Linked DNA regions of Homo sapiens: regions 1 and 3 are each linked to region 2. Evidence: fine-mapped expression QTL. A gene starts in region 2. Each other region holds a variant in brackets. All regions are shown on one strand. Distances are between the middles of the regions.

Region 1 (2,781 bases), 53 kb after region 2:
AGGCCCTGTATCCATGGACTCTGAGTGTGAGGAGTCACTTGCTGCCAGCCCAATGGCAGCTAAGCCCGACAACCCATCAGGAAAGGTCTGTGTCAGGGAAGTAGCACCAGATGGCCCACTACAAGAAAGCTCCACAAGACTGTCCCTGACTTCAGACCCCGAGGAGGGGGACCCACTGGCCTTAGGGCCTGAAAGCCCAGGAGAGCCTCAGCCTCCACAGCTCAAGAAAGATGATGTCACTAGCTCCACCGGTCCCCACAAGGAGCTGTCAAGCACAGAGGCAGGTTCCACAGTTGCAGGAGCAGCCCTCAGACCCAGCCATCATTCCCAGCGTTCCAGGTATGTTCCTCTGAGCACTGCTTCAGGGACAGGGTAGTTATCTGTGGTGAGTGTCTCTGTTTTTTCCAGGGCTGGCAACTCATCCCTCAGAGACTAATTTACTCATGTCTTCATTCATTAGTTGATGTATTAATTCAACAACACCTACCATGTACAAGGCTCTGTGGCGGGCCCTACAGTAGTGTGGCGGGCCCTGTGGTAGTGTGGCGGGCCCTGCGGTAGTGTGGCGGGCACTGTGGTAGTGTGGTGGGCCCTGTGATAGTGTGGTAGGCAAGGCAGGTTTGGTTCTTGAGTTTAAGGAGTGACAGTCAAGTGGAGAAAACAAATACATACTTACATATCATAAAGTATGATAAGTCCTTTTAAAAAAGAAACAGGGTGCTATTCTAAAGGAGTTGTTCCACTTTAGATAGGGTGGCTAGGGAAGGATTCTGAGAAGGTCACATTGAAAAGATGACTCTGGCTGTAGGTTCTGGAGGGGGCCAACCGCACTAGGAGGCCACTGTAGGGTGTGGGAAGAGATGGTGGCAGCGGAGGTGGGAGGAATTCCTGAGCAGTCACCAACGCTGTTGAATTCTTACCCAAGGGCCGGTGACCCTTGTAGGTGGTGGGTACTGTGACCTGGAGCAGGAACAATAACATTTTCTATGACTTGATTTTCCTTCAGTCTCTCTGGGGATGAAGAGGATGAACTGTTTAAAGGGGCAACTCTGAAAGCTCTGAGGCCCAAAGCACAGCCTGAGGAGGAGGATGAAGACGAGGTGGTAAGGAAATCCCAGGCACTGTCAAGTCCTCACACACCCACCTGGGGGCTCTTCCCTACTGGCTCTGAGAAGAGAAATGGAGCCTGTTGGTGGCCCACTCCCTGGACTCTGTGTGCAGGGCCCTGTGGGAGCAGGCTTGGGGCTGGGCTGGGAGGGCGCAGCTCTGTAAGCAGAGTAGGGGACGGTCACATACCACTTTACTTTTGAGAAAGAATCATAGTCTCTGTCCATGCAGGAATTAGTCCCCTCAGAGGAAGAAAGCTGAGCTGCTTAGCCCCACATTGGAATGCTGAAGCCTTAGTTTTCCCCAAATCTGCTAGGATATTATTTATATTTTAGAATTGGAAAGGACTTTGAAGATCATCTTGCCTGGCATCCTTATTCATAGATAAAAAACCTGAGGCTCAAAATGATGATTTACCCAAAGCCACAGAGTGAGTTAATGGCAAAGCTAGGACTAATCCCCAGGCTCCTGTAAAGACCTCCTGTTCCTGAGCATTTTCCACTTACTCAGCCTGCTTTCCTGCTGCCTTGTTTTGTCATCACAATATCCCTGGGCACAAAATGGGTTCA[GT/T]ATTAATAGCATAGCTTCACAGAACAAGAGTGAAGGCCAGGAGAGGAGGGCACTGATAGGGACTGAATTAGAACCCCGGTTCTCGCCTCTGCTGCTCCCCGCTGTGCTAGGTTACAACCGTTCTGGCTGTCCCTAGGCCATTTTGACTGCTCTGAAATGCATATGGAGAACACAGGTGGGCTTCAGGCTCAGTCCATCTAAAGGACAGAAATATGAGGGTGAATGGGGCAAATTTTGTCCCCTCATGTATCAGCCAGAGTGGATTTTGCCTTTTGCCAAAACCTTGAGCAGAGAGCTGTGATGGATCTATGCTCCAGCTTGCATGTATCGGAGCCCTTCCCTCTTGCCTGTGTTCCTTTGGGGAATGTACCAGTTCCTTCCATGAGTCTTTCTTCTCAAGAGTTAAATTTTCATTTGAGAATCCAGAATAGCAATTCTGCCCTTAAAAAAAGGAAAAAAGGGGGAAAAACCAAATTGAGTATATTCTAAGTGACTGCCCTAAATATAGTTGGAAGCTTTTAATTAGTGAGCATATTATTGGTATTAGTACCAATACTGTCCAGTTAACATGTAGTTCTTGGGTACTCTGAAAACGACTTCACAGATGTTGTCATTTAATCTACTAATCCAATGAGGTAGGTACTTTTATCCCATTTTATATATCAGAGGGCTGAGGCTCAGGAAGATTAAATAATTTAACTAAGCTTATATAGCTAGTAAATGTAGAGCCAGAACTTTAGTCAGGACAAAACAGAAGCTGTGAGCCACACTTGAAAATCCTATACTGTCAGAGTTAGAGATCACGTCATTGATGTCCAGAGAGAAGTACGAGGTCTGGCTAATTGGTAGTGACGTGGGATTAGCCCAGAGACTTGTATACACATCACGCTGCCTTCCCTTTTGCCTGGCCCTGTGAAGATGGATTCTGGTTGGCAGTTGCTCACCAGAGCAGAGAATGCCTTAGTAGAGACTATTCAGTTCGTGCCTGTCTGTAGCATCAATCCCTGCTAGCCGGGTAGGTCCTGTTCCCTTGCCAAGCCAGAGGAGAAAGGCCAGGAGCTCAAGCTGTGAAAAGAGAGGGTCTCTCATGGCCCATCAGTCCCT
Region 2 (2,781 bases):
AATACCATAGATAATGTAAGCCAGGGGCTAGCAAGCTCTTTCTGTTAAACATTTAGATGTTTCAGTGCTGCAATCACAGTGACCGGTGTTGGGGAGAGGGATTAGAAAGTGCCATGGTACTTAATCCAGTTACTCCCCCAACACCTCCAAGAGGTAGCCAAGTTCACACACTAAACAGAGCTACTGCAACAGTTCTAGTGCTAGTCCTTAGATTCTAGTTCCAGTTCCGGTTCTAGTGCTTAGATTCCAGTTGCATCATTCCAACTGTGAGCCTTCGCTGCTTTAACATCTTTGCCAGGAGGTGCAAAGTTCTCTGGGAGGGAGCTACCAATCATTTCATTTCAATTTCATACTGACAGATTGAAACATTCACGTAAGGGACACCTGTAGTACCAACCTGACTGTGAGGGGAAGCCCAAGAACTCCAGTGAGTCTGTGGACGCTACGCTGGGACACTATCTCCTTAGCCACACCTTGTCTAAGCCAGGACTACCCCAGGATTGTTTCGAGAATGATACCAGGTTAACCAAAGAAATACTTATGTAAGATACAGATAGGGTGGAAACTGGAGGCAGAGGAGTCCGCCACAATTGATGTTGATTTAGGGCTGTCGCAGGAAGACCCAGGGAAACCCACGCCAAAGTTGGGGTGGGGATGTGTCTGCCTCCAAAGTATCCTCCTTTCCATCACCCACCGCCAGAATATCTTAGCTCTTCTGCACCTCATCCGCGTAGAATACAGGTGGACTCTAGAAAGGGGACTTTCCTCGAGGTGTATGCTACAGTCTTTCAATAGTCACTCTGTAAGGGCACACAGTGCTTAAGGGCTGATAAGGTTCTTGTTCACCCACTAGCTCACTATGTCCTGAATCAAAGGACGAGGAATCCAGTCTCAGTCTGCCCTTTACTCTTTGTGACCTCGGACTAGTCACCCGGGTGCTTAGTTCCTTCGTCTCCCTATCTGTAAATTCTGAGATTACGAGGAGGCCGGGATTGAAATCCATGGCCTCTGAGCTCTAAAATCTTCTGGACCAGCAGGCACATGGAAGAACTGGACAAATGGCCGGTTGCATACACGGGGAAACTGAGGCACCGAGCACCCCGGCCCAAGGTCACTCTGGCTATGCCACTGCAGGGGCCGGGCCGAAGCCCCAGTCTTTAACCCTCCAGTCCCGAGCTCTTTCTCCTTCCGCGGAGCTGAGGAAAGCGGCGAGGAAGGTCCTTGTCCCGCTGGGAAAAGGACGGTACCCATGCACAGGGGTGCGAAAGAGGGGCCGAGAGAAGCCTTACCTTTCCAGGTCAAGTCCAGCCACTAGCACCTCTCTCTCCGAATCTTAACCCGTCACCCCCTCACGACTCTTCGAACGGCCCCTCCACTTCTACCCGGCTCGACGTGTCCACCACCGCCACCGAGGCCGAGGATTTCCCGCCCCCTCCCGCCCCCTAGCATTACCGACCAATCCCTGCAAGGGGCTGTGAAGCTCCGCCCCGCTGCGGGCTGGAGAGGCCTGACGTCACTCGGCGCTCGTGCCCGCGCGAGCCTCTCATTTGCCTTTGCCCCACCTTCTCCAGAGCCCAGTCTACTTTCGGTCCAGAGACCGTGCTGGAGTTCGCCCTGCCGGAAAGCAGCACGCCGCCGCGGCATTTTACGACGTCGGCGGTGACAGGCCCTGGGACTCTGGGAATACCCAGCTTCCTCCCCGCAACCCGGTGAAAGCCAACGCAATGTTCGGTGCGGGGGACGAGGACGACACCGATTTCCTCTCGCCGAGCGGCGGGTGAGTGACTGAGAAGTATGCGCTGGAGGGCGTGGCTGAGAGATACCGGCGGATTGTTGGAGGGGGGTCGATCTCTTCTCAGGCCTTTTCCCAACTTCCGGGGGGAGACCCTTGCCACATTCCGGTGCTCTACACCTCTCAGAATCTGGGCAGAACTTGCAACTGTGCTGACCCTGCCGATCTGAGGTTCGGGACCCGGCATCTCTCTTGGCGGGAAGATAGCCCTGGGTTTGCCTTTTGCATTCTGGGTCACAATTTCTCCGGTGAAATGGGAATGATTGCTGATGAGACTTCCTGCCTCAGAATTTTTATAGGAGTCAGCTGGGGCTGATGTGAGACTTCTTTTCTCCATGGAGAAGGCGAAGACACTTTAGAACCAGGCCTTGGTGGGTCAGCTCTAGCATTCTTCAAGGCCCAGCTCGGATGTCACGTTTTGGATGCTTTTCCTTCTGCAACCTCAGGCAGAATGAATTGCTTTCTCTTCCTTATTCCTGCAGCTAGGTGTGTTTGCCTCTATTCTTATACCCCGCACCTATTAGATTATGAGTCCTCACCGGACAGGGACTGCTTATGGTGTTCATTTCTGTCTAGCATGCAGCATGGTACCTAGCACATAGTGAGTGCTCAGGAAGTGGCTGTTGAATGAATAATAGCTGCGAAATTGCACTTTGTAAAGCTTAAAGCTTAAAACCAACGTAACAGACTTCTGTCATTCTCCAGTTTCCCCAAGCATTATATTAATATATACCAGCCTGGAATAGAAATCTTTAAAGAGAGGAAGGGTTTTGTCTCTTTTAGTAGTCAGTTTAGCCTTTTCCATTGTGTTGTGCCAGTGGACAGCTTGACTTCCTCCAAACTTGTGAGCTACCAAGCTCTGATCATTGCAGAGCTTTTCTTTGAACATATGCTTAACAAATTTTGTGCGTGCTGAAGAATGTACTGGAAAAATGACAAATGCACCACATATGCCCCTTATTCTGCTAAATGCTAAGAGGTTACAAAAA
Region 3 (2,719 bases), 42 kb before region 2:
ATTTTAAGTCGAGTAGGGGGAGAGTGAGATGAAAACCTAAAAGGATCATACCACCTAAAATACGGACATCTTTTTTTTTTTTTTTTTTTGAGACGGAGTCTCGCTGTGTTGCCCAGGTGCAATCTTGGCTCACTGCAACCTCTGACTTCCGGGTTCACACCATTCTCCTGCCTCAGCCTCCCAAGTAGCTGGGACTACAGGCGCCCACCACCAGGCCTGGCTAATTTTTTAATATTTTTTTTAGTAGAGACGGGTTTCACCGTGTTAGCCAGGATGGTCTCGATCTCCTGACCTCATGATCCACCTGCCTCAGCCTCCCAAAGTGCTGGGATTACCAGGCGTGAGCCACCGCGCCCGGCCACAATATGGACATCTTAAAAACTGATGGTAATGGCCAGACTCTATGCAGACTATGAAAAGACTAGCTTATTGCATTATCACTCTGGGCAGAAAGACTTGCATAGAATCACAAAATCAAAATATTTATTTTGTTCTTTTTCATATGACACTGTTAAAACATTCCTACTACAGCAATACTGCTCTCCAGGAGCTTACAATCTAAAACAGTCAACATTAATTGTAGACCCAGTAATTAAGGCATTATATCAAATGCAGACTTTGTATCTTTTTTTTTTTTTTGAGACGGAGTTTTGCTCTTGTCGCCCAGGCTGGAGTGCAATGGCGCCATCTTGGCTCACTGCAACCTCCGCCTCCTGGGTTCAAGCGATTCTCCTGCCTCAGCCTCCCGAGTAGCTGGGATTACAGGCATGCACCACCACGCCCAGCTAATTTTTGTATTTTTAGTAGAGATGGGGTTTCACCACATTGGCCAGGCTGGTCTCAAACTCCTGACCTCAGGTGATCTGCACCCCCGCTTGGCCTCCCAAAGTGTGTGAGCCACTGTGCCCAGCCCAGAGTTTCTATCTTTTGATGTATCTTTTGAAGGAGCAGCTGGAGAGGGCAGGATCAAAATTAAATCACATGAAAGTGTACTCCCCTCCGCCTGCTCCTTATAAGGAACCCCTTATGACTAGAACCCAAGACCAGTACCCACAGCCTGAAAGGGAATTTCAGACAACCCTACCATAGAAGTAGTGAAGAAACCTTAATTTCTAATCTCCTAGTGGATACAGTGAGGATTCCATTTGTGGGCAATGGGGATGCTGGGAGTTCCTCCCTCACAGACTAGAGACGGCACC[T/C]AAGATTCTGTAACTCTGGGAAGGGTACCAGCCTTATAGAAATTCCAGTGGGTCAACTGCCTCTTGAAGCATGCTTAAAGTCTCTTAACAGGTTTATAAATGCCAATTTCTGGTTGGTATTATATCCACAGCATAGCACTGTCTACTGCATCAGGAGGGCTATGGAGACTTAATATACTAGACATGCGATTAAAAAAACTGAAAGAAAAGGGAAAGGACAACAGAGTAAGGGGGCCAAAGAAATGGTGATGCAGTCTTCTAATAGATGTGAATGGGGAAGGAAGAAAAGAGAAGTTTAGATCCAAAATGAACAAAGAAGTCAAGCATTAAATTCCAAATGAACAGGTATACAGAAATGAAAAGTTAATGAAATCATTGTATTATCACAATCCAAGAGCTCAAGATGGAATTTAAGCTTTTTCTCCTTCACTAGCTTCATCCTTTGGCAGCCAGTCTAAGAATCTCTGAAATTCAGGTTTTTCAGGAGATTATCTCTATCCTGAATACCTGAAGACCTAATCTAAACTGTTATTTCTTTCTGTGAATTTCAAAGTCATAGCATTTTGTCTTAACTGGCCTTGAATTTTCTTTTTTTCTGAGACAGGGTCTTGCTTTGTCACCCGGGCTGAGTGCAGTGGCGCAATCATGGCTTACTGCAGCCTCGACCTCCAGGGCTAAAGCAATCCTCCTGCCTCAGCCTCCCAAATAGCCAGGACTATAGGTATGCACCACCATGCCTGGCTAATTTTTGATTTTTTATAGAGATAGGATCTCACTATGTTGTCCAGGCTGGTCTCGAACTTCTGGACACAAGCCATCCTCCCACCTTGGCCTCCCAAAGTGTTGGGATTACAGGCATGAGCCATTGGGTCTAGCTGGCCTTACTGATTAGGTTTTGTTGCTGGGAGGGTATTCTATAGCAGCTCATGCTGAGATTTCTAGAGAGCACCAATGTCACTACTAACTATTGATTCCTATTTATTTCTCATGGTTTTATGACTCCTTGGCTTTAGACAACAGGCTGTATTATACCTTTGTGTTGGACTTCGTCAGTACCTGTCATTCACCCTGCTCATGTTAAGTATCATCATTACAAAGTGATGGAATGAGAGAAAAGCACAAAGCTCTAAATGTTGGTTCTTGGATTTTAACCTCAATCCAGTAGGCTCATAACCCTCTCTTGGTTCAAAGCCATACAAGTCCACATTCCTTGCTCTCCAATATTTAACTGGCACCCACAGAGAAAGTACAAACTTCAAAACCACAACACAGGCCAACAGGATAGCTGTGTTTTGTTTCCTCTGCCCTGAGGCACAACTGGATCTAGCACCAAGGAGGGCAGGATTTAACAGACCAGCACAAGACAAATCAATTTAAAGAGGTAGTTTGAACCAGGAATAAGACTGCAGTGTAGACTACAACTGAACAGAATACAAATCCAATGTGGTTCTTCACTGAGAACAGGGGTTTTGGCCACTTGTAATGTAATTAAACCCCCACGAATAACAAAGATGATTATA

Evidence for each region. PIP is the estimated chance that this variant, and not a neighbour inherited with it, causes the effect. A credible set is the group of variants that fine-mapping cannot tell apart.
Region 1: its variant is the best candidate, but not a certain one, in a credible set for the expression of SLC31A1 in whole blood (TOPMed, PIP 0.50).
Region 3: its variant is the best candidate, but not a certain one, in a credible set for the expression of SLC31A1 in thyroid (GTEx, PIP 0.76).

What each region holds. Positions count from the first base shown.
Region 1 is chr9:113,166,782-113,169,562 of GRCh38, reverse strand. FKBP15 (FKBP prolyl isomerase family member 15) reads left to right here. Exons shown (of 28, transcript NM_015258.2): 26 at 1-339; 27 at 1,007-1,103. Among named protein-coding and RNA genes, the nearest start is that of SLC31A2, 17 kb to the right of the region's middle. The variant GT/T (reference allele first, on the strand shown) is at 1,677.
Region 2 is chr9:113,220,187-113,222,967 of GRCh38, reverse strand. It overlaps SLC31A1 (solute carrier family 31 member 1), which reads right to left and starts at 1,424. Exons shown (of 5, transcript NM_001859.4): 1 at 1,290-1,424. It overlaps FKBP15 (FKBP prolyl isomerase family member 15), which reads left to right and starts at 1,691. Exons shown (of 28, transcript NM_015258.2): 1 at 1,691-1,777. The coding sequence starts at 1,725. RefSeq lists enhancers at 513-702, 1,543-1,652, 1,763-1,892.
Region 3 is chr9:113,262,235-113,264,953 of GRCh38, reverse strand. It overlaps SLC31A1 (solute carrier family 31 member 1), which reads right to left. Exons shown (of 5, transcript NM_001859.4): 5 at 462-2,719. Among named protein-coding and RNA genes, the nearest start is that of CDC26, 12 kb to the left of the region's middle. The variant T/C (reference allele first, on the strand shown) is at 1,200.